Linked DNA regions of Homo sapiens: regions 1 and 3 are each linked to region 2. Evidence: fine-mapped expression QTL. A gene starts in region 2. Each other region holds a variant in brackets. All regions are shown on one strand. Distances are from middle to middle.

What was found. PIP is the estimated chance that this variant, and not a neighbour inherited with it, causes the effect.
Region 1: its variant is fine-mapped to the expression of SPTBN2 in lymphoblastoid cells (GEUVADIS, PIP 0.95).
Region 3: its variant is fine-mapped to the expression of SPTBN2 in T cells (GENCORD, PIP 0.95).

What each region holds. Positions count from the first base shown.
Region 1 is chr11:66,105,553-66,113,731 of GRCh38, reverse strand. The region is part of intron 1 of PACS1 (phosphofurin acidic cluster sorting protein 1); the gene reads right to left. Among named protein-coding and RNA genes, the nearest start is that of PACS1, 39 kb to the right of the region's middle. RefSeq lists enhancers at 313-402, 5,929-6,772. The variant T/A (reference allele first, on the strand shown) is at 3,430.
Region 2 is chr11:66,724,480-66,732,658 of GRCh38, reverse strand. It overlaps SPTBN2 (spectrin beta, non-erythrocytic 2), which reads left to right and starts at 3,443. Exons shown (of 38, transcript NM_006946.4): 1 at 3,443-3,918.
Region 3 is chr11:66,696,988-66,705,166 of GRCh38, reverse strand. It overlaps SPTBN2 (spectrin beta, non-erythrocytic 2), which reads left to right. Exons shown (of 38, transcript NM_006946.4): 15 at 1-569; 16 at 3,446-3,583; 17 at 3,885-4,641; 18 at 5,559-5,761; 19 at 6,085-6,175; 20 at 6,382-6,528. Among named protein-coding and RNA genes, the nearest start is that of RBM4B, 23 kb to the right of the region's middle. The variant A/G (reference allele first, on the strand shown) is at 3,606.

The DNA of each region.
Region 1 (8,179 bases), 620 kb after region 2:
CATCAAATCTCTATACAGCTTTCAGTTCAGCTGCTGTATTAACAGGAACAGGAGGAATCCTAAACATAAAGACTACAACTTCTGAAGAGGAAGTCTGATCAAAGTATACAAGTCATCATACCGAAAGGAACTGAGAGTTTAAAATATACTCTTATGTCTTCTTGTCAAACTACATGTGCTGCAAACATTTTTTTTCCTTGCTTGTTACGTTGTAAAAGTATCTGTTTGGAGATACTTAGTCTTTGAGGTGGAGACCCAACTAGCCTTGATGGTAAGTAAGTTCCAATAGCATATCTGAAGATAACCAATAACCCTGCAATTAGAAAGATGTTTTGCCAACTAGAGATTGAGGACAAGAGACCCAAAGGATGTTGGAACTGATTCAGAAACAGGAATGTAAGTACGTCTGGGATGAGTCAGCAGGTAGCTAGGAGAACTGGAAATTAAAAGAAAAGTCATCTGCCCAAGAAGTGGGTAGGTAAACAAAAGAAATCCAAAGTACATTTAAATGTCAGACACCAGTTCAACTTTGAGAAATAGTTTATATACAATAAAGTGGACTGATTTAATTGTACATTTTGATAAGTTCTGACAAATTTATACCTGTGTAATCACCACCATATTTAAGATACAGAACATTTCCATTACCCTAAAAGTTCTGTGTTCCATCCCAGTCAACCCTCTCCCATCCTGGGTTCTGGTTAGCCACTTTTCTCTTACTATAAATTAAATGCCCTTCCTAGAATTTCATATCAATGGAATCCTAAGTATGTGCTCTTCTGTGTAAGGCTTCCTTTCATGCAGCATAATGCTTTCAAGATTCATCCATATTCCACCATGTATCATTCTTTTTATAGCCAAATCATAGCCACAGTTTATTCATTCATGTGTTGATGGGCATTTGGGTTCTTTCCAGCTTTTGTTATTATGAACAAATCTGCTATGAATAAGCAAGGCACCAGAGGCTTTTGATAACTTTCATTTCCCCATTCAGCACTGTCCATGTACTCTCAGTTCACTACAACTCGACCCCTGGCACTGGCCCATGCACAACGGGAAAAGCAGTCACTTATTCAACAAATAGATATAAAGGGTCTACTGGATGTCAGGAACTGTTCAGGCACTGAGAACTCAGTCATGAACGAGACAGATATAACCCCTCTCCTGTAAAACACACAAACAAAATCATGTCGGATAAGGTATGTAATAGAAAAAAAGTTTAAAGTAAAATATTAAGAAAGCAACGAGAGGCATGTGACTAACTGCGCAGCGAGGGAAGGCCTGTCTGCGCTGAGTGAGACCTGAATGACACCAACGGGACAGCCATGTAACCTTCTGACATCCAAGCATTTCCAAGAACTGCAAGCACAAAGGCCCTAAGGAGAGACTGAGCCTCTCCTATCCAAGCAGCAGCAGAAGGCAGGCCATGTGGCAGGCATGCAGCAAACTAGGCGAAGAGGGTAAGAAACAGGCTGGAGAGCAGGCAGAGGCCAAGCCAAACAGGATCTTGTAGGCCAGGAGAAGAAGTCTGGGTTTTACTGGAGGGGATTAGGCAGGTGAGTGCAACAATCAGATCTGCATTTCAAAGAGACCACTCTGCCGGCAGTGTAGAGAAGAACTGCACAGGCAGTGAAACAGATCAGTCTGGTGGCTACTGCGTGATGCAGGTGAGACAGGGTGGTGTGAACGACAGGAGAGCAAGGGAACCACGGGGGATGGGAAGGGTTCAGAATCAATAGCTCCTGCTGAGGGACTACATGAGGCAGGCATTATAAAGAAGAATCTGAGCTGGGTGCAGTGGCTCACACCTGTAATTCCAGCACTTTGAGAGGCCAAGGCAGGCGGATCACTTGAGGCCAGGAGTTCAAGACCAGCCTGGCCAACATGGTGAAACCCCATCTCTATAATACAAAAATTAGCTGGGCGTGGTGGCGCATGCCTGTGATCCCAGCACCTAGGGAGGCTGAGGCAGGAGAATCACTTGAACCCGGGAGGTGGAGGTTGCAGTGAGCAGAGATCACGCTACTGCACTCCAGCCTGAGCAGAGTGAGTGAGTCAAAAACAAAAAACAAAACAAAACAAAAAAAAGAATAATAATCTGGGATAATTCCTAGGTTTCTGGCTTAGGCAGCTAGGTGGATAATATAGTTGACTGAGGTGGGGACAATTAGAGGAAAAACAGGTTTGGCGTTGTGGAGAGAATCAAGAGTTAGGTCCTTGTATTAAATTTGTGATGCTGATCCAATATCCAAATGCAGATGTCAAATAGGCACTTGGATACATAAGTCTGGAGTTAAGAAGAAAAGTCAGTGCCACGTGTCTGATATTAGGAAATAGTACCTGAAGCTAAGAAGTGGATTATAGAGACAGTTCTGCTTTTAAAACTAGTACAGTCATGCACCGCAGAACAACATGCAGTCAACAATAAACCACATATACAACAGGGGTCCCATAAGATTATAATGGAGTTGTTCTATACAGATGCAACATTTTTTATACTGTATTTTTACTGTACCTTTTCTATGTTTAGATCCACAAATACCACTGTGTTACAATTGCCTAAAGTTGAATCAGTGCTGTACAGGTTTGTAGCTTAGGAGCAACAGGCCATACCACACAGCCTAGGTGCGTAGTGGGCTATGCCATCTGGGTTTGTGTAAGTACACTCAATGATGACATGTTTCTCAGAACACATTCTCATCCTTAAGTGACACATGACCCTGTATATATACCTCTAGCAGCGTACCAGGATAATACCAGATAAATAGGTCAAGTGACTCCGAGATCAATTTTACTTAGACTTGGGAGGGTTGGTAGGGAAGAAAGTTTTGTAGCTGAACACACGTATAAAGAGTAAAATGTTGGCTGGGTGCTACGGCTCATGCCTGTAACGCCAGCACCTTGGGAGGCTGAGGCGGGAGGATCACTTGAGGTCAGGAGTTCATGACCAGCCTGGCCAACATGGCAAAACCCCGTCTCTACTAAAATACAAAAATTAGCTGGGCATGGTGGTGCACACCTGGAGTCTCAGGTACTCAGGAGGTGGGAGGATCACTTGAACCCAGGAGGCAGAGGCTGTAGTAGTGAGCCGAGATCGCATCACTGCACTCCGGCCTGGGCAACCAGAGTGAGACCCTTTCTCAAAACAAAACAAACAAAAAAAAACTACAGGAAAGAGAAGGATCATTTCTATCAGACTTTAGAGTTTTTTGTGGAATATGCTATGAAGACAAGACATGCCATTAAAATCAAGAGGCATTTAGCTAGACGCAGGTGCCTGTGGTCCCAGCTACTCGAGAAGCTGAGGCAGGAGGATCCCTTGAGCCCAGGAGGGCGAGGCTGCAGTGAGCTATGATCATGCCTGTGAAAGCCACCATACTCCAGCCTCGGTGACACAGTGAGAACTTGTCTATATATGTATAAAAAAAA[T/A]TTTTTTTTTTAAATCAGGAGACATTTGATATGAGTGTTGGTAGTTTATCAAAGGGTCATGAAGCAATCAGGCATGTAATAAGTACTTTTTAATTATTTCAATTCCATGAATCATCAATGAGACTAAGGTAAGATATAACTACTCCCTCAATCTCAATGCTTTCAGAGAAGTCAATTATACTCTCATAAACATATCTGAGCACAGGCACCAGATCCGTTTAAAGTAAATGGCAACCAAGACAAACTTAATTTAATGTTATGTGTGTCCCGTTGAGAGGGGAAAAAGAAATACTGGCATACTATGTAAGGAAGTCTCTGGAGCTATAACTTATCAAATCACTTGTGCCGTTTATATCTTAAGAACTTCACAAAATACTGCATCAGTAACTGTAATTTCATAAACAGAGTATTAATGCTGGCTGACAACCTCCCTTATCACTTATTAATGGCAAACAGTAGGCTCTAACAGGAACAGCTTTCACTTAACACCAGGAATTGCCTTTGTAGAAAGCGAGGAGATGAGGAGAGAGAACTAAAGGTTCAACTCAAACTTACTAAGGAAAAGAAATCAGAAACAAATCAAAATCAATTTTTACTTCATCATCAATAGAGTATGAACAGAAAAGTCACTGGCTGTTGAAACAACACAGCAGAAAATGTGGAAGATAAAGGCTGGGGAGAGAGGCTGGAGTAACTGTAGCAAAAGAACCAAAGCCAGGTGAAGATGAAGAAAAAGGGCTTAGGTTAGAGTGTGAAGGAACTACCTTCTTGTTACTATAAAGATGGGTGATGACAATAATGATGGTGACATGACTCATATGCTGTTGTGTGGTAAACTATGCACACACTTCTTCACAGACCTGAAAGACCATATGCGACCTTCTCTTTTTCTTTTACTTTTTGTTAAAATAGAGATGGGGTCTCACTATGTTGCCCATGCTGGTCTCAAACTCCTTGGCTCAAGTGATCCACCTCAGCCTCTCAAAGTACTGGGATTACATGCGTGAGCCACCACGCCTGGCCATATGCGACCTTCTCAATGAAACTTTTCCTGACACATCCATCCATCCCCAGGTACTCACCACCCTTCTCTGAAACTGGCTCTGTCTCCTCTACTGGTGGAGGGTACGGGATATCCCCTGCAGCTGGCATAAAACTTGGCACATAGTTTTGTCTTCAATAAATGCTAGTTTAAAAAGTGAACGAAGGCCATAGTGTCTGTGTGAGATATTGCACCTGAAGCATAAGGTTATTTGTTCCAGTCAAAGAGGTATCACTTGCTATGGACTGAGTTGTGTCATCCTAAAATTCTTAGTTTTGTTTTGTTTTTAGAGACAGGGTCTTGCTGCTCTGTCATCCAGGCTGGAGTACAGTGGCACAAACATAGCTCATTGCAGCCCTGAACTCTTGGGCTCAAGCAATTCTCCTACCTCAGCCCCAAGTAGCTAGGACTACAGACACATCAGCACACCCAGCTAACTCATTCATTCTTTCTTTCTTTCTCTTTCTCTCTCTTCTCTCTTTCTCTCTTTCTTTTTGAGACAAGGCCTCTCTCTGTCACTCAGGCTAGAGTGCAGTGGCACAATCATGGCTCACTGCAGCCTCAATTACCCAGGCTCTAGTGATCCTCCCACTTCAGCCTCCCAAGTAGCTTGGACTACAGGTACATACCACCCTGTCTGGTTAATTTTCTTTTTTTCTTTGTAGAGATAAGATCTTAATACTCAGGCTGCCAGCTTTTGTAGAGACAGGGGGTCTTGCTATGATGCCCAGGCTGGTTTCAAACTCCTGGGCTCAAGCGATCCTCCCACTTTGGCCTCTCAAAGCTCTGAGATTGCAGGTGTGGGCTGCCATACCTGGCCCTAAATTCCTATACTGGAGCCCTAATCCCTAAAGTGACTGCATTTGGAGATAGTGCCCTAAGGATGTAATATGGTTAAATGAGGTCAGAAGGGTGGGGCCCTAATCTGATAGGGCTGGCATCCTTATTAAAGGAAGACACAAGGGCTTACATATGCTCTCTGTGCACAGAGGAAAGGCCACATGAAGACACACCTAGAATGTGCCCGTCTGCAGCCAAGAAGAAAGGCCTCACCAGAAACCAACCCCTACTGGCACCTTAATCTTGGACTTCCAGTCTCCAGAACTGTGAGAAAATGTTTGCTTTTTAAGCCACTCATTCTATGGTATTTTGTTATGGTAGCCCATGCAGACTAACACAACACTCAAACTAGAAAATGAGCCTTGCTGGGTTCTCTTGGCCTTGTTGGCAGCTGTCATGATGTACAAAAGGGAGCTCCTTAGTAACAGATTATGAGATGGTGCCACATGCAGGGCATCAAGGCAAGGTCAGGACTAGTCCTATGAAGCTGGAATTAGATTTCTCCTAAGTGGGTAGATTAGGATGGGGCCTGCAAAATATGAGAACAAGCTAGATATGGCAGCTCCAAGAGTGAAACACTGTTAAGCCAGACTGTTGTAATACTTGTTGCATTCTCTATGCTGGTTTCTCTATTGTTCTTAGTACTCAAAACACTTCCTTGAACTCTCCAGCCTATCTCAGTTATGCTAAGAAAGAATCAAGAGAAGATGTTTTTGTCCTTGTTCATTAAAGGGGGAACAGAGCATCCCTGGCCAACGTGGTATAGTGGTAACAATCATATAAGTAAAAGAATTCCAAGCAGAGGGTGAAACTCAGTGTCCCAGCCATTTCATTCATTCAACAAATATTTACCAAGCACTTACTATGTGGTTGACCCTAATCTAACCACTGGGGATAGAACAGTGAACAAAATCAGTACAAATCATGGCCCTCATGGAGCTTTCATTCTACCTGGAAACAGGGAGACAGTAAACAATCAGCATAGTATACAGGAAAAGGATATAGTGTGTTAGCAGTTGACAAGTGCTATGGAGAAAGGGAAGCAGGAATAATGTGGGGGGAGGGGAGCACAGGACAGGCCTCACTGGGATGGATGACACATGAGCAAACACTTTGAGGAGGAGTGAAAATGAACCATGACTCTATGTGGCAGAGGCAGTGCAGAGACCAAGGCAGATCATAATTGACATTTTCAGGAAAGAGCAAAGAAGCCTGCGTGGCTGCAAGGGAGTGACCTGGGAGGAAGTAGTAGGTGGTCAGACTGGGGGAGGGTGCTGTCCGCAGGGAGTCATTTCATGTAGACTCACAGACCACTGAATGGCATTTGAATGAAATGAGAACAGGTACTTCATGTCTTCCCAACTGCTAAACCTGGGAGGTAATATTCCCTTAAGGAGTAGGCTTCTCAAAGGGTAAAATCTTTAGTACTTTGTTTTGTGCTGCAGAATTCCTGCCCGGGGCAAGAATGCTCACATGAAGCCCAGAGGCAATGGCTTGAACACCAACTGTAGATATCCTGGAAAGGTAGTTTGGTAGAAGAAACACAAAAACCTATTTAGCAGCAAACTCACCACACAACCTTCGGAAAGGTATAAAGAACCAGTTTTGCATGTGGAGAAACTAAGGTACAAAGACAAGATTTATCTTTTTTTTTTTTCTCTGAGACAGGGTCTCGCTTTGTCATCCAGGTTGCATGCAGTGCAGTGGTGTGATCCTGGCTTACTGCAGCCTCAACCTCTTGGGCTCAAGCGATCCTCCCACCTCAGCCTACCTCTTCACCTCCACCCAGTAGCTGGGATTACAGGCATGCACCACCACGCCTGGCTAATTTTTTTATATTTTTTTTTATTTTTTGAGATGGAGTCTCATTCTGTCACCCAGGCTGGAGTGCAGTGGCACGATCTCAGCTCACTGCAACCTCCCCGGGTTCAAGTGATTCTCATGTCTCAGCCTTCCAGGTAGCTGGGATTACAGGTACGTGTCACCACGCCCGGCTAATTTTTGTATTTTTAGTAGAAATGGGGTTTCACCATGTTGGCCAGGTTGGTCTTGAACTCCTGGCCTCAAGTGATCTGCCCACCTCAGCCTCCCAAAGTGCTGCGATTACAGGCGTGAGCCACTGCACTCGGCCATTTTTGTATTTTTTATTTTTCATTTTTTGTAGGTTCTCCCTCTGTCGCCCAGGTTGGTCTTGAACTCCTGGGCTCATGTGCTCCTTCCGCCTCAGCCTCCCAAAGTGCTGGGATTACAGGTGTGAGCCACAGCGGTGGGCCTCAGCTACATTTTTAAAGGCAGGCTGAAAGTGAAATGAGAAGAAAACCAAATGACTACTTCAAATGACTTGCATCTTCTAGAAAATGCTGCCTCTTTACATGACACTGTGGAAAAGCTAGCCAGAATAAGAGGAAAGGAGGAATGACGCTTTGAGAAAACCCAAACATTAGACATTCTCACCCAGGCCACTCCTTTCTACCCTGCCTGTATGGGTTTCATCTCAAATAAAAAGGCTTTTATCTAAATGTAAGCTTGTAAACCCAATTCAGGTTCCAGCCAAGGATGCTTATAGGCATACTCCTCCCAGAAAGTATACTGTAGCTGTGTATCTCAGGATAAAGTGGAATATCTATCCATAAAGCCTATTCTCATTACCAATGCTGAGATTCAACACCATCTCTAATTTCTGATTATTGTGTTATTTGTGATCCACATTAAAGATTCTATTTCTGTACATAGTGCAGGGAAGGGCATGGAAAGTTTATACATATTTAAAATCATTTCTGAAAAGATGAGTAAGCAATAGTATTAAAGAAAATTTTGGAGAGAAAAACCACCAAAAATTCCACTGTCTTAAAATGATTTCATTTTCAC
Region 2 (8,179 bases):
TTTTTTTGAGAGACAGAGTCTTGCTCTGTTGCCCAGGCTGGAGTGTAGTGGAATGATCTCAGCTCACTGCAACCTCTGCCTCCCGGGTTCAAGCAATTCTCCTGCCTCAGCCTCCCGAGTAGCTGGGATTACAGGCGCATGCCACCACGCCCAGCTAATTTTTTTGTATTTTTAGTAGAAAAGGGGTTTCACTGTGTTAGCCAGGATGGTCTCAATCTCCTGACCTTGTGATCCGCTTACTTTGGCCTCCCAAAGTGCTGGGATTACAAAGTCGTGAGCCACTGCACCCGGCCTCTTTTCTCCATTTCCTATGTACACCATGTGTCCTGCAACATCAGGCCTGTTAGCCATATGCTCTGTGGCTAAGAACATGGGTTCAAGGGTCAGATTGGGTTAAAATCCCAGCTCTACCCTTGCCTGGTTTGATGACCCTGAGTAAGGTACTTAATCTCTCAATGTCTCCATTTCCTCATCTGTGAAATGGGGTTAATACTTACCTCTTGGAGTTGTTATAAAGGATTAAATGAAATGTTATGTGTAAAGTATTAGAAATACAGTTCCACGTTAATGTTAGTAACAGCTATTATTATTCCCCACTCTGTCTGGTTAATGCTTCTCATATTTCAGATCTCAGCTCAGGTGATCTGAGGTTATGACTCTGTTCAGTTCTCTCTTAACATCCTGAACTTTTCATTCATAACACTCATTATACTTTGTGGTTATATATCTGATGGGTTATTTTATTAATGTCTGTCAATCCCACCACAGGCTCTTCCAAGAGAAAACAGACAGTATCCATTTTACTCATCATTATATCCCCAGATCCCAGCACAGTGCCTGGTATATAATTAGCCATATAGTTTTTGCATAAATATTTGATTGAGCAGGGGCGAGGAAGTGAAGCCAATGAGTGCAAATGACTCAGGAAGACTGTGAACATAAAGAGCAAGGGGAATGCATGGAGGGAAGTCGGGGCTTCTTGATTATTTTTTAAGCTGGCAAATGCTTGAGCATGTTTAAATGCTGATGGGAAGGAACCAGCTGAGAGACAGCAGTGAGGGCCGTGAGGCTGCAGAAGGGGATGAGACTTAGCATAGGAGCCAGAAGAATCCATCTTAGGTGAAAAGAGGGACACCTCTTCCCTGGTATTGAAACAAGAACTGAGAATTCGGCTATGTATGTATGTTTGGTGGGCAGAGCCAAAACCTTTCCATGAATCTTGGTAATGTAAGCAGCAAATGTGGATTCACTGAGAAGCTCAACAAACTTGGTGGATATCATTCCATTCGCTTTTGCAACTCAAATAAGAAGGAACCAGATATTTTCTTCATCATTGACTGTACTGGTTCACTACAGAGCAAAATAACAAGTTTCCAAAGCAACCCAGTCACAGAGCTGAGATAGGTGATCTCAGTGTTCTCTTTATTCAATGTGCTTCCTCTCCAAATCGGGAAACAGTATGGGAAATAATACGGTAAAATCATAACGGCTGATACTGATTAAGTGCTTACTATGTGCTGCATATAATTCATTTACCTGCAATAATTCATTTGATGTTCCCCACATTATGGTGCCATTTTACATGTAAGGAAACTGAATCCTAGGGAGGTAACTTGCCCAAGGTCACATAGTCAGTGGGTGGCAGAACTATGTTTTAAACCCAAGGAGTCTGACTCCAAAATCAATGCTTTTAACCATTCTGCTATACTCCCTGTCTAGCAGAGAGGAAAGAACATATTAGGATTCAGAAGACCTGGAGTTTCTACCATGAACTAATTCTGTGAACTTGTACATTCACTTAGGTGTCTGAACATCAGTCTGTTCATCAATAGAATAAGAATGAGAATGTTTATCTTACAAGGCTTCTTGAAGGATTATGAAATGCTGAAAATAGGAAATTATAAAAGATATTATTTTGCTAATCATAAGACTTAATACCCTTGACTTCTAATTGGGTCACGATATTATAGGCTGTCATTGAGACCCTTAGTTCCCGTAACCAGTACAGCAGCAGCAGCTTGGTGGTTCCAGTTCCTTTGGCAGGGCAGCTGATTCTCTAATTTTTTTTTTTTTTTTTGGAGATGGAGTCTCGTTCTTGTTGCCCAGGCTGAAGTGCAGTGGCACAATCTCAGCTCACTGCAACCTCTGCCTCCCGGGTTCAAGCGATTCTCCTGCCTCAGCCTCCTGAGTAGCTGGGATTTCATGCCCACCACCACGCCTGGCTAATTTGTGTATTTTTAGTAGAGAAGGGGTTTCACCATGTTGGCCAGGCTGGTCTTGAACTCCTGACCTCGCGATCCACCTGCCTCGGCCTCCCAAAGTGCTGGGATTACAAGGGTGAGCCACTGCGCCTGGCCATGGGCAGCTGATTCTCATCCCATCAGCTTTAATGTCCCTGACCAAGTGTCCCTGATGACCGTCATGCACAGGTTGGTGCCTCCTTCCCCCGAACCAACCAACACATAATCCTACCTCTGGGAAGAGTTGCAGTTTATGCCCTTGTTTCTTTAATGCCATTGCCTGAAAGAGTGGCTATTAAAAATAATAAATAGCCTCAGGCCTGGCACGGCAGCTCACGTCTGTAATCCCAGCACTTTGGGAGGCTGAGGCAGGCAGATCACCTGAGGTCAGGAGTTCAAGAACAGCCTGGCCAACATGGCAAAACTCTGACTCTACTAAAGATACAAAAATTAGTCGGGCATGGTGGCATGCACCTGTAATCCCAGCTACTCGGGAGGCTGAGGCAGGAAAATTGCTTGAACCCGGGAAGAGGAGGTTGCAGTGAGCCGAGATCAAGCCACTGTACTCCAGCCTGGGTGACAGAGCACGACTCCGTCTCAAAATAATAATAATAATAAATAGCCTCAAATGCAGCTAACTGTGAGGTACACACCAGAGAGCCAGTTCCAGTTTCGTGGTAGAAGCACAGATATCAGAGCTAGGAGAGAACTTCAAAGTAATCTTTCAATGGAACTCCCCAACCCTCCTCCCAACCCATTTTATAGACTAGGAAAACCAAGGCGAGGTAGATGACACCACTAGTTAGGGTTGTCAAAACCATATCTGGAAAGTACTTCAATTGCACATATTTGTTTCAGTATGCATACCTTTTCAGAAAGGAGCAAAATCCTAAATTACCCATAAATCTATTATAAAACCTTAAATCCAATAATTCACTCAAAGCCCATTCTTTGAGTGCCCTTACTTGACCATTTCAGGCATTCCCTGGATAGAAACGGGCCCTCATCTTCAGGGGCAGTACATAACCTAACGGCTCTGTACAAAGCTCACCCTGTTACCACTGGCTCATCTCTGAGCTGAGTTCTCTAATCTGGAAGAACAGCACCTACTTCTCAGAGCTGGAGTGGGGGTGGGAGTGTCACATGAGATGATGCGCTTTTAGCACCCACCTGGCACTCTGTGAGTTTGTCATGATTTGGGCATAATTCCTTCCTCTCCTAAGCAGGCAGCAGTTCACCTTGGTTAAGGACCTTGGACCTTAGACCACTCAGACGCTAACAAACCAAGGAGAAACCCAGCCGTGTCAGGCCTAGAAATGTCTGCCCCCACCCCCACCCCCCTCAAGACGGTGACTAGGCCGGAATTCTCCTGGTTGATAAATGAGAGGAGCTGAGAAGCGCTGAGATGCCTGTTTGGAGCATCTGATCTGTAGAAGACGAATCTTCACTGTGCCATGGAGATGTTCTGGGAGGGAGAGCCGGCCCAGCTGCCTGAAGGAGGACGCGAGAGCGAGGGGACGGGTGAGAGGAATGCTTAGCGGAGACGGACTGGAGGTGCCCGGAGAGGAAAGGGGAACGGAGGCTGGATCTCGGGAAACCTCGTCGGCAGTGTCATTAGAGGAAGGATCGCGTGTCTCGGGGATACGGATTTTGGAGGAAAAGCAGAATAGGGACAAAGGTGAGGTGTCCGAACCGGGGAGATCAAGACCTGTAAGCTGTGGTGGGGGACCCAGGGACCAGCGAGGACGGGAAGGCGGGGTTTTGGGGGGACCCCGCACGGAAGGTGGCTGGGGGTCGGCAGCCGGCCTCGGAGCTGCTGCCGCGTTCGCCCCGAGGCAGGTCAACTACCCCGGGCGGGGAGCGGCGGGGAGCACCGAGAGGGGCCTCGGTTGCCATGGCGCTGGGCGGGGAAGGGGCGACTCGGGCCCCGCCCAGAGCCCCGCGGGGCCGCCGGCTCCAGATGGTCCCGGGCCTCCCGCGGGAGCCGGCGGCCTGCGGCAGGGGGAGGCTATTGTCCTCCTTCCGCGGCGCCGCAGTCCCGCCGCTCGCGCCCGCGCGCCGCCGCCACGCGCCCCGCCGCCGCCCGCCCCGCGCGCCCCCCGCGCCGCCTGCGCCCCGTGACAGCGCCCGCCCGCCGCCCGCCGTGCGCCCGGCCGCTGCCTGCAACCGCCCGTCGCGGCCGGGCTGCAGGCGCGGCAACTACCGGTGCGCCCCCGCCCGCCGCGCCCCCGCCCGCCCGGCCGCGGCTCCGCGCCGAGGTAGGTGCCGGCGCCCCGCCCGCTTTGTCCCGGCCCGCGGGGCGGCGCGCTTTGTCCGGCCGCGTGCGGTCGGCGGGGTCGGGGTCGGGGTCGGGGTCGGGTCCCGGCGGCCGGGGTGAGCCGGGGCGGGAGCAGGCGGGGACGGGACGGAGAGGGTCCCGTGCCAGCCACACAGGTACCGGGATGAGGGCGGTGGGGGCCAAGGCCGAGGGGGGGGGACTCGGGCCTCTCTGGAGCCGGGAGAAGAGTCTGGAACAGTTAGGGCTGACGGACACGTTCGCGGCGAGGCTGGGAGCGGGTCTGACAGCGCCGGCCCCTCGCGTCGCCGGGGCTGCGGGGCGGACGGGCCGGCGCCGGGCCAGGTGCTGGGGGCGCGCTCGGCCGCCTCTGCCCGGCGGACTGCGGGAGCCGGGCTCCCTCCTCCCCGGAGCCGCGTGGGCTCCTCCTCGCCTCTTTGGCAGCTGGCTCCACGCGCTCCCTTCTGTTCCCCCACAGTGTGTGGGAGAGGGGCACGCGGTTGGCTGTGGTGGCCGGAACTGGCCCGGGGAGAAAGCAGACGCTTCGGGCGGCGGGGAAGCGGCCGCGTGCGGCGTTTCTGTGGCCAGGAAGCTGATAGGGCTGTGCGGTCCGCCCCGCACGGAACTACCCAGCAAGGCCTGCTCGCGGGGGTGTTCCGGCTCCGGTGCCACAGTCGTGATTTACCTTCCACTCGCTTGGAACTTTACCCCATTGACCCCAGGACATTGCATGCTTGTGTGAGGTGCAGGTTTGCCCCGGTCTTAACCTGCTACATGTCGTCTGCCCTCCCCCTCTCGGAGCAGCCACAGTTCCAACGCTGGAGAGCCCGGGGGTTTCAGGTATGGGCAGAGGTAGCAACAAACCAGTTTTCCTTGAAGGTGAAGAGGGGCAGAGTGAGTTCCAAATATGTGTCTTAGCTTGAGGTGTGGGGCAACCTCTTGGCTTATTCAGAAAGGCAAAGGATTGGCCGAGGAGAAGATAGGATGGAGTTTACATTCTTCCCTTAGAGAAATTGATGTGACCCCGGGTTGGGGAAGGGAGATAGCAAGGGAGTGAAGAATCTGAATATTTGAATAAATCTGCCATAACTGGAGGATTCTAGAAGAGAAAATAAAATTTCAGTCCCCCTCTTCAGCCCAGTTCCTAACTTCCTCCGAGGGAATTGATCAGGAACACAGTCTGAGAGGTGGGTCGGGGTTTTGCTGTTCCTTCCTTCTGCCCTGGGCCCATCTTTCTCTTGCCTTCCTGGAGGCCCTGAGCTGATTTGTGACTTCTTTTTCGTTTTATCTCTCTGCCAGTCCACCCATTTATACTTAGAAGCAAATAAGATTTGAACTTTGCCAAAGTCCCCATTTCTTCTAATCTATTATTCATCTCACTGTCATTTGTTCAACTCTGCCTTCCCGTGACTTCTCTAGCTCTGCCGTTCTCCTCCCGCATATCTGCGGTTCGCTGTGCTGTTTCTTTCATTACCTGTGGTACCTACTCCATCTTCATCTTCCTCTCCCATCGCCTGAGCTCCTGAGGGGAAGTGATATTTGAGTTTAGTGTGGGGTAGGGCCTGAGCAGACCTAGAAGCTAACCCTGGGTCACACTCACCCCTGAAACTTTGTGTCTTCTCAACACTCATGGCTCCTCTAACCAATTCCAGCTGCTTCTCATCTTTGGACAAGGGTGGCCCTCAAAGTGTGGTCCCCAGACCATTAGCTTCAGTGTCACCCGGGAACAGGTTAGAAATGCACATTCCCAGGTACCACCCCAGAAGTACTGAATCGTAAACTGGGGGATGGGGGGGTGACCTGTGATTTAACAGTCCTCCAGGTTGTTGTGATTCATGGAAGTTTGAGAATCCCCAGACCTGAGCTGTTGAGCTCAACCCTGAAAGTATTCCAGCCCAGGAGCAGGTCTTCTCCAATCCCGTGTTCATTCTTTCCTTGAGCTTCTCTCTAGTCCTAAGAAAGACATTAATTCCATGGCCAAAAAAAATGAATTATAGTCAAGTCATTCAATATCTCTTTATTGAATATCTGTTGTACTGAGTCTGGAAAAACACCAAAACGAGTAAGACAGCCCTTGTCCTCAATGAGTTAAATGTGGAGCGGGCAGAGAGACACGTAAACAACTAACCGTAATGCGATGTGATAAGTACAATACTAGCTGCATGCCGAAGTGCCCTGGAAGCACAGAGGAGGGAATGATCAACTCTGAGGGAGGGAAATAATTCATCAGGAGCAGGATGTGGTGAGAGGAAGAATTAGGATACAAGGCAGCCTGTAGCCCAGGGTATAGGATTTCTAGCTTAACATGTCAGCTGAAAGAGAGGAAAACTGCCCTGGAGGATCGGCACGGTGAGCCTAGTCTGCCTCCAGCAGCGCCTGGAGTACATTCCAGCAGGACCCCAAGCCTGCAGCCGGCGGGGGTTGGCATTCTTCTAGCACTAACAGTGTAAGCTACTTGGGCCTGGCCTTGAGGTCAATTGCTAAGAATAAGGTATGATGAGACTGTAATCTGGATTAGCTACTGCACCACCCTATTGCCAGACTTCAGGAATCTGTGGAAGAGAGGACGATTGAGGATTCTCCAGCTTCCTCATGACAGGGGGTCATGAAGCTGGGGGGCTGCTGGCCGACTGAGGAAATGTGAGCATGGAGACCCTGGTCATAGGTGAGGAATGATCTACTCAGTGGCAAGAAACCAGCGCTGGATATGTGTAGGAGAAAAGCAAATAGAAATCAGTGGGAATCTAGAGATGGCAGCAGGGGACACAAGCTGAGAACACAGCATATTGTCCAAAAGGCCAGGGAGCTACAGAGCCAGAATGCTTGGAAACCAAGACCTAGAGACACAAAGGTAGCAGAGCCTCAGAGCCACATGCTGAACAATGCCAGAGAGCACCATTCACATGGAAGGCTGTGGAGTTGCAACATGGTGGCCCTGTGGGGGTCTGTGATCTAAGGACACCAGTGCCAGCTTGGTTCCTGATCCATATCACAGCATTTCTGGAAACTCAGAACACACAGCATGCATGCTTCAAATTCAATTTGGAGAGAGGAGCATTTAAGTGGCTGAGGTTTTATTTGGGGGAAGAGGAGGTTCTAGCTCCATACTTTCTCCTGGTAATGGTAGGAATCCGCAGAGACATTCTAACAGTTGGACTTCCCTGGAGGGTCTGGCTCCCAGTTGGGCCCCTTTGTAACTTTAACAAAACCCCCAATTCTGCATTTCTCCTGAGCCCTACTTCCTACCACCAGGGCTGTGGTCTTGGCAGTCTCTGGTTCTGGAAAGGAAGGAGGTATGGAGAAGAGAGAAGTGATGGGTGGTGAGACTCGGGTAGGTAGGGAGGTGTGTGCCCATGGACACACAAAGGCAGAACCTTTCTGGCTTCCATCATTAACTGGTTCCATGAAGCTGAACCTGACCTGCTTGAAGGCCAGGGTTGTCTGCCCCTCCCCTTGGGAGGACCAAGTTGGATCCCCAAAGATAAGCCTAAGCAGTCCATGTTTAGGTTCTGTGCAGCTTACAGGGGCCTCAGAGCTACTGTGGTTTGGAGACAGGGTCAGATGGTTAGCTTCTTTGAGTTTCTGCTCTTTGTGGAGTACAAAAATATGAGGCAGGGTTTGCAAACCTCAACAGTTGGGGCCAGGCAGGTAACATAGATATGTG
Region 3 (8,179 bases), 27 kb after region 2:
GGCCAGCAGTTGGTGGCCGAGGGTCACCCTGGGGCAAGCCAGGCCTCTGCCCGTGCAGCTGAACTCCAAGCCCAGTGGGAGCGGCTAGAGGCCCTGGCCGAGGAGCGTGCCCAGCGGCTGGCCCAAGCCGCCAGCCTCTACCAGTTCCAGGCCGATGCAAACGACATGGAGGCCTGGTTGGTTGACGCACTGCGCCTGGTGTCCAGCCCCGAGCTGGGGCACGACGAGTTCTCCACGCAGGCTCTAGCCAGGCAGCATCGGGCCCTGGAGGAGGAGATTCGAAGCCACCGGCCAACCCTGGACGCCTTGAGGGAACAGGCAGCAGCCCTGCCCCCCACACTGAGCCGCACGCCCGAGGTGCAGAGCCGGGTGCCCACCCTGGAGCGGCACTACGAGGAGCTGCAGGCCCGGGCAGGCGAGCGAGCGCGGGCCTTGGAGGCAGCCCTGGCGCTCTACACCATGCTCAGCGAGGCCGGGGCCTGTGGACTCTGGGTGGAGGAGAAGGAGCAGTGGCTCAACGGGCTGGCCCTGCCTGAACGCCTGGAGGACCTGGAGGTCGTGCAGCAGAGGTAGGCCCCTCAGGCTCCTAGTGGGACCAGCCTTGGGAGGTGGGGGTGGGGGGGCCAGGATGTGGGTGGTGAGTCCCTCCATAAACTTCCTGCCTCACCCCTTTGAGTCTTAATGGTTGTCCATTTCTAGTTTTAACAAAAAATGTTAACCATACTCACAAGTAGAGACATTTCACCACAAACCCCTCTACACCCGTCACCCAGATTCAGTCATTGCCAACATCTTGCTCTATTTGGTTCTCTGCCCTTTTAAAAAGCAAATCCCCAAGATTAGCACATCCCTCCTACCTTCTTCAGGGTGTGCCCTTTAAGAAATACAAGGAAGCGGCCGGGCACGGTGGCTCACACCTGTAATCCCAGCACTTTGGGAGGCCGAGGCAGGCGGATCACGAGGTCAGGAGGTCGAGACCATCCTGGCTAACATGGTGAAACGCTGTCTCAACTAAAAATACAAAAAATTAGCCGGGCACAGTGGGGGGCGCCTGTAGTCCCAGCTACTCGGGAGGCTGAGGCAGGAGACTGGCATGAACCTGGGAGGCGGAGCTTGCAGTGAGCCGAGATCGTGCCACTGCTCTCCAGCCTTGGCGACAGAGCGAGACTGTCTCAAAAAAAAAAAAAAAAAAAAGAAAAGAAATACGAGGAAGCATTCTTACCTACAATATATTATTTTCAAATTGTCTGTGTGGACTTAAAATAGCTGAGGCTTTGAAGTTATAAACCTTTTAGACAGAGACACTAAAATAGTTTTATTTACAGAATAAATCTTCAAATCATTTATTCAATAATAAATCTTAAAAATTTTTTTATAGAACCACAATACCATTATCACATAGAACAAAATTAGGAATTTCTTTTTTTTTTGAGATGGAGTCTCACTCTGTCACCCAGGCTGGAGCGCAGTGGTGCGATCTCGGCTCACTGCATGCTCTGCCTCCCGGGTTCCAGCGATTCTCCTGCCTCAGCCTCCCAAGTAGCTGGGACTACAGGCACCCACCACCATGCCCAGCTAATTTTTTGTATTTTTTTATTAGTAGAGACAGGGTTTCACCATGTTAGCGAGGATGGTCTCGATCTCCTGACCTCGTGATCCACCCGGCTTGGCCTCCCAAAGTACTGGGATTACAGGCATGAGCCACTGCGCCGGGTCAGGAATTTCTTGATATGATCTATGATCAATGTGTAATCAAATTTCCTGGTGTTTAAAAAAATATAATTAGGTCAGGCCTGGTGGCTCACACCTGTAATCCCAGCACTTTGGGAGGCCAAGGCAGGAGTATCACTTGATTCCAAGAGTTCATAACCAGCCTGGGCAACATAGTGAGACTCCACCTCTACAAAATTTTTTTTTTAATTAGCCAGGCATGGTGGCAGGCGCCTGTAGTCCCAGCTACTGGGGAGGCTGAGGCAGGAGGATTGCTTGAGCCCAGAGGTCGAGGCTGCAGTGAGCTGAGATCGTGCCACTGCACTCCAACCTGGGTGACAGAGTAAGACCCTGTCTCAAAAAAATAAATAAAAATAAAAATGTAATTAAAGATTTTTTTTAGTTTTCAAGGTATCCTAATGTAGAGGTTAACAAACTGCAACCCTTGGGCCAAATCCAGCCTGCTGCCTGTTTCTGTAAATAAAGTTTTTTTTGGTTTTTTTTTTTTTTTTTTTTTTTGAGACGGAGTCTTGCTCTGTCCCCCAGGCTGGAGTGCAGTGGCACAATCTTGGCTCACTGCAAGCTCCGCCGCCCGGGTTCACGCCATTCTCCTGCCTCAGCCTCCCAAGTAGCTGGGACTACAGGCACCCGCCACCACACCTGGCTAATTTTTTGTATTTTTAGTAGAGACGAGGTTTCACCGTGTTAGCCAGGATGGTCTCGATCTCCTGACCTTGTGATCCACCCATCTCAGCCTCCCAAAGTGCTGGGATTACAGGCGTGAGCCACCATGCCCGGTCTGTAAATAAAGTTTTACTGGAACAGAGCTACACTCGCCCTTTTGCGTATTGCCCGTGGCTGCTTTCAGGCTACAGCAGCAGGGCTGAATAGTTGCCGCAGCAGCTGCATGGCTCACGAAGCCTATAATATTTACCATCAAGCCCTTCACAGAAAACATTTGCAGACCCTGCCCTATTAGAACATCAAATGTCGGCCAGGCGAGGTGGCTCACGCCTGTAATCCCAGCACTTTGGGAGGCCAAGGCGGGTGGAGCATGAGGTCAGGAGTTCAAGACCAGCCTGGCCAAGATAGTGAAACACCCGTCTCCACCAAAAATACAAAAATTAGCTAGGCTTGGTGGCGGGCACCTGTAATCCCAGCTATTCGGGAAGCGGAGGCAGAAAATTGCTTGAACCCGGGAGGCGGAGGTTGCAGTGAGTCGAGATTGCACCACTACACTCCAGCCTGGGTGACAGAGCGAGACTCCATCTCAAAAACAAAACATAAAATGTCCCTGGAAGAAGTTATCCTTCACATTTTCATCACTCAGACAAATATTTTTGGTTATTACTTCATTTTCTAACACATATTAGTGGGATGAGACCCAGATAGGCAGCTAAGGGGGAAGTCCCAGGAGGCTGAGCAGCTCTGATAAAGGGTTGGCCCCATGCCAGGGTCTAGTTTGACTTGTGTGTCTGTTCCTGACCTTTACCTTTCACCATCTTTTGAGCATTTCTAGCGATGACAGTTATTCTGCTTGTTTTGGGGGAGTTGTGGGTTCCTTCCTTGATGCACAGATACTATGAACCTCATAGGCTGAGAGGCAGAGAGACTCCTGCAGATAAGCCTCCTGGTGAAGGAGACACCCTCCTGGGTGTTTAAGAGAGGTGGACTTAGGTGGACTGGGCACATCGCTGCCTCCCACAATTCACGCCTGGCTCTTCCACCCTCTCAGGTTCGAGACCCTGGAGCCTGAAATGAACACCCTTGCAGCACAAATCACCGCGGTGAATGACATTGCCGAGCAGTTACTGAAGGCCAACCCCCCAGGCAAAGACCGCATTGTCAACACCCAGGAGCAGCTCAACCACAGGTGGGTTTGGGAGGGCAGGACC[A/G]GGAAACTGACAGAAAAATGAAGCAATGGGGATGGCAGTGAGAGGCAGGTTTTGTAGGGCCTGGAAGGGTGGCTACAAAGGAGGAAGCAAACCAGTCTGGAATATGTTGGGGAAGGAAAAAGGATGAAAGAGATGAGAGAGGGGGTCAAGGTGGTCTGAAGCGGCTGCTGGCCAGAAAGGGAGGAGTGAAGGGGAGCTACCAAGAGAGAGAGAAGCAGGGAAGAAGCTTCCAAACAGGCCTGGCCAGGGCAGGAAGCTGAACCTTCCCCCTGCTCTCAGGTGGCAGCAGTTTCGGCGTCTGGCAGACGGCAAGAAGGCAGCTCTCACCTCAGCCCTGAGCATCCAGAACTACCACTTAGAGTGCACGGAGACCCAGGCCTGGATGAGAGAGAAGACCAAAGTCATCGAGTCCACCCAGGGCCTAGGCAACGATCTGGCTGGGGTGCTGGCCCTGCAGCGCAAGCTGGCCGGCACGGAGCGGGACCTGGAGGCCATCGCCGCCCGGGTGGGCGAACTGACTCGAGAGGCAAATGCCCTGGCTGCCGGCCATCCCGCTCAGGCAGTGGCCATCAACGCCCGGCTGAGAGAGGTGCAGACCGGCTGGGAGGACCTCAGGGCCACCATGCGGCGTCGAGAAGAGTCGCTGGGGGAGGCGCGGCGGCTGCAGGACTTCTTGCGCAGCTTGGATGACTTCCAGGCCTGGCTAGGCCGCACTCAGACTGCTGTGGCCTCTGAAGAAGGGCCGGCCACCCTGCCTGAGGCAGAGGCCCTCCTGGCCCAACATGCAGCCCTGCGGGGAGAGGTGGAGCGGGCCCAGAGCGAGTATAGCCGGCTGCGAGCCCTGGGCGAGGAGGTGACCCGGGACCAGGCTGACCCCCAGTGCCTCTTCCTACGACAGCGACTGGAGGCCCTGGGAACTGGCTGGGAGGAGCTGGGCCGAATGTGGGAGAGCCGGCAAGGTCGCCTGGCCCAGGCCCACGGCTTCCAGGGATTCCTGCGGGATGCTCGTCAGGCTGAGGGCGTGCTCAGCAGCCAGGTGAAAGTCCAGGGCAAAGTCCCAAGCAGGAGGAAGAGCAAAGTAGGGACCCGGGGAAATGTGAAGGAGCAGGATGGGCAGGAAGGACATGCTAGCAAAATGGGGCAGCGCAGTGGTTCACACCTGAAATTCCAGCACTTTGGGAGGCCAAAGTAGGAGGATCACTTGAGGCTGAGAATATCCAGACCAACCTGGGCAACATGGCAAGACCTTGTCTCTACAAAAAAATTTTTTTAAGAAAATAGAAGAATTTTTTAAAAAGAAAAATGGGAGCCAGACAGGATGGCTCACACTTGTACTCCCAGTATTTTGGGAGGCCGAGGCAGGAGAATAACTTGAGCTCAGGAGTTTGAGACCAGCCTGGGCAACATAGTGAGACCCCCATCTCTATGAAAAAAAAAAATTAACTGGACATGGTGGTGCATGCCTGTAGCTCCAGCTACTGGGGAGGCTGAGGCTGGTGGATCACTGGAGCCAGGAGTTTGAGGCTGCAGTGAGCTATGATATGCCACTGCACTCCAACCTGGGCCACAGAATGAAACCCTCTCTCAAAAAAAAGAAAAAGAAAAAAGAAGGAAAAATGAGAATGAAAAAGACGTGAATATAATTTACTAAAACTGACTTTAGAAGAAATAGAAAGCCCAGTTTGTCATGTAACTGTTAAATGGAATCAGGAGCTAGAAGTGAGATAGAACAGGATTTGGGCTGGGGAATGGAAGGTCCTTCCCACCCAGCTTCCCTGTGACTTTCTGAGGCTCCCATGCTGGCTGGCAGCCTCCCTGTCTTCAGAGCTCTCTGGGCTACCCTCCCTGTCTGCTTGTTGGTCCCTACCTCTCAGATTTGCCCCTGGGTGGGTCCCTCCTAGGGGGGTGAATTGTGCTGGGGAAAATGAGCTGAATGTCATCCCTCCCACACAGGAATATGTTCTGTCTCACACGGAGATGCCAGGGACACTCCAGGCTGCTGATGCTGCCATTAAAAAACTGGAGGACTTCATGAGCACCATGGACGCCAATGGGGAACGGATCCACGGGCTCCTGGAGGCTGGCCGCCAGCTGGTATCTGAAGGCAACATCCACGCCGACAAGATTCGGGAAAAGGCAGACTCCATTGAGAGGAGGTCTGATGAGGACAGTCCATGAATTAGGGTTCCCAGGGGGGAATCGGAGAAACAGGGTGACCTCAAAGATAAACGTGGCACAGGAAACCCACAGATGGGGCAGGAGCTGACAGAGAAGTAGAGGGGAAGAACTAAGTGGTTGGAGAGGGCTGGGAGATTCCACCCCCAACCAGGGCTAAAAGGAAGTCAGGATTCCTGGGTAGCCTCATTGTGCTCCCGGAAGGCGTTATTCCCCTAGAAGAAATGGAGGCCCCTAGGTTAGCCAAAGGGTCACAATCCTTTCACAGCAAATTCCAGAGTTTCACAAGAGGGTGTCGTTCCAGGCACAAGAAGAATCAAGACGCAGCGCAGCAATTTCTGGGCCGTCTTCGGGACAACCGGGAGCAGCAGCATTTCCTGCAAGATTGTCACGAGGTGAGGCTCCCTGGGGCCCCGGGATATTCCCTAGCCATCCCTTTCTCACCTTGAGCCTAGAATAAGTCCAGCACAAGGTACCGGAGACTGTGAGCCCCTTCATGGCTTCTTCCCAAGGCGCCCACTTCTCCTGGCTCACTGTGGCCCTGCTTTTATGCCCCCCTCTCCCCTCCCTTGGAAATGTCCCTGTTTTATGTTTGGTCCAGCTGAAGCTCTGGATCGACGAGAAGATGCTGACAGCCCAGGACGTGTCCTATGACGAGGCCCGCAACCTGCATACTAAGTGGCAGAAGCACCAGGCATTCATGGCCGAGCTGGCTGCCAACAAAGACTGGCTGGACAAGGTGGACAAGGTGAGCAGTGCTGTGGGGGCTGCCTCTGGGCAGAGTCCCCCATGGTACGGGGGAGGGCCTGGCTCCAGGACGTGGTTTTTGTCATGGTTAGAGATTGTGGGGTTCTGGTGCCACAGCTCCATGGTGGAAAGTTATGGCCTCTGGGAAACAAACGTCTTTGTTGGAGACAAAGAGTGGGACAGTGAGTCCAGAACCTTGATAAAGTACAAATTAGCAGGTAGCGAAACTGCAGCCTGGATTTAACGCCATAACTGTTCCTGAGTTCAAAGCAGGATGGTGCTCTTCAGCAGGCTCTGCAAACCTTGTCTGGAAAGGGCTTGGGCTGGATGGTCAATATCTGAGGCTTTGCAGTCCAAACAGTTTCTACTACAACTACTCATCTCTGTCGTTGTAGTGCAAAAGCAGCCTCAGAGAATAAGTGAATGAATGAACATGGCTGTTTCCCAATAAAACTTTATTTGTAAAAACAGGCAGTGGGCCAGATTACCCCGTGGGCTGTATGTAGTCTGCCAATCCTTATTTTCGAGTCTTGCCGTCCCTGGTTCTTGGTCTCCCACCCAGCTGTTCCTCAAGAGTCAAGGACAGATAAAGCTTTATATCTGCTCAGCAAGTATCCCTACAGAACATGGTACGTGCTCAACAGTCTGCGAGGCACTGCAGGGTCTACGAAAAGACACTTTCCTTTTCTCAAGGGCATGATGGTTGGGACAAAAGGAGACCAGTGTGCTTTCAAGTGTTTCCATTCGTTCAGCAAATATTTACTTGGTGCTACTATATCCAAAGCATTGTATTAGGCCCTGCGTGGGGTCCGAAAGGGATCCCATGGTAGGCTCCACCCTGAAGGAACAACACTGTAGCCAGGATATGAGGCATATATGCAGGTAGCTAAATCGAATCCAGAGCAGAATCTGATGAGTGCTGTGAGAGTGGCCCCGTTGAAGCCTGGGGAATAAGGAGAGAGGAGATATGGAAATTCTAGAAGCAGCAACATCCAGGGCAGTCCATGGAGGATGAGTAGAATTTGGACAAGTGGAGATATGGAGGAAAAGATGTTTCCAGGTAGAGAAAACCAAACAGAAAACCAGTGGTAGGCAGTGCCTGTTTGGGAGCAAGGGGGTGAGTGAGTCCAGCAGCAGCACAGAATGTGTGCAGGGCCCCATGGAAGAAGAGGTGGGAGAGAAGCCCCGGGAAGTCCTGACCACCACATGCGTGTGCTTCCAAGTGTTGATTGTGCTCAGGGTTGTGAAGCTACCCAGGCAGTGCTAGCCTTTGATGCTCTCCATCCTGACAGCCACAGCCACCTGCAAAATGGCCTGAAGGCAGTGTCTGGGTTTGTGTTCCCCTAGAAGCAGACCCTGAAACAGTGATTCTAGGGAGGTGTCCCCGGGAATGATCAGTAGGGGGGTGGAGCCATGAGAAGGGACAGAAGTCATGCCAGTTACCCCCATGGGCATCAGGAGCCCAACCCTCATGGGGCATTCTGCGGGGGTGTAGATGGAACACAGAACACAGCACTCTCACAGCCACGGCACAAGGATGCTGTGTGTTTATCCATCAGCTCCCTGTCTGTCACTGGTTGAGGGCTGCTTCTGGGCTTGTTAACTCTGTGGCTCTTCCAATTTGCCTTCCACACAGTTCAAGAGAGCACACT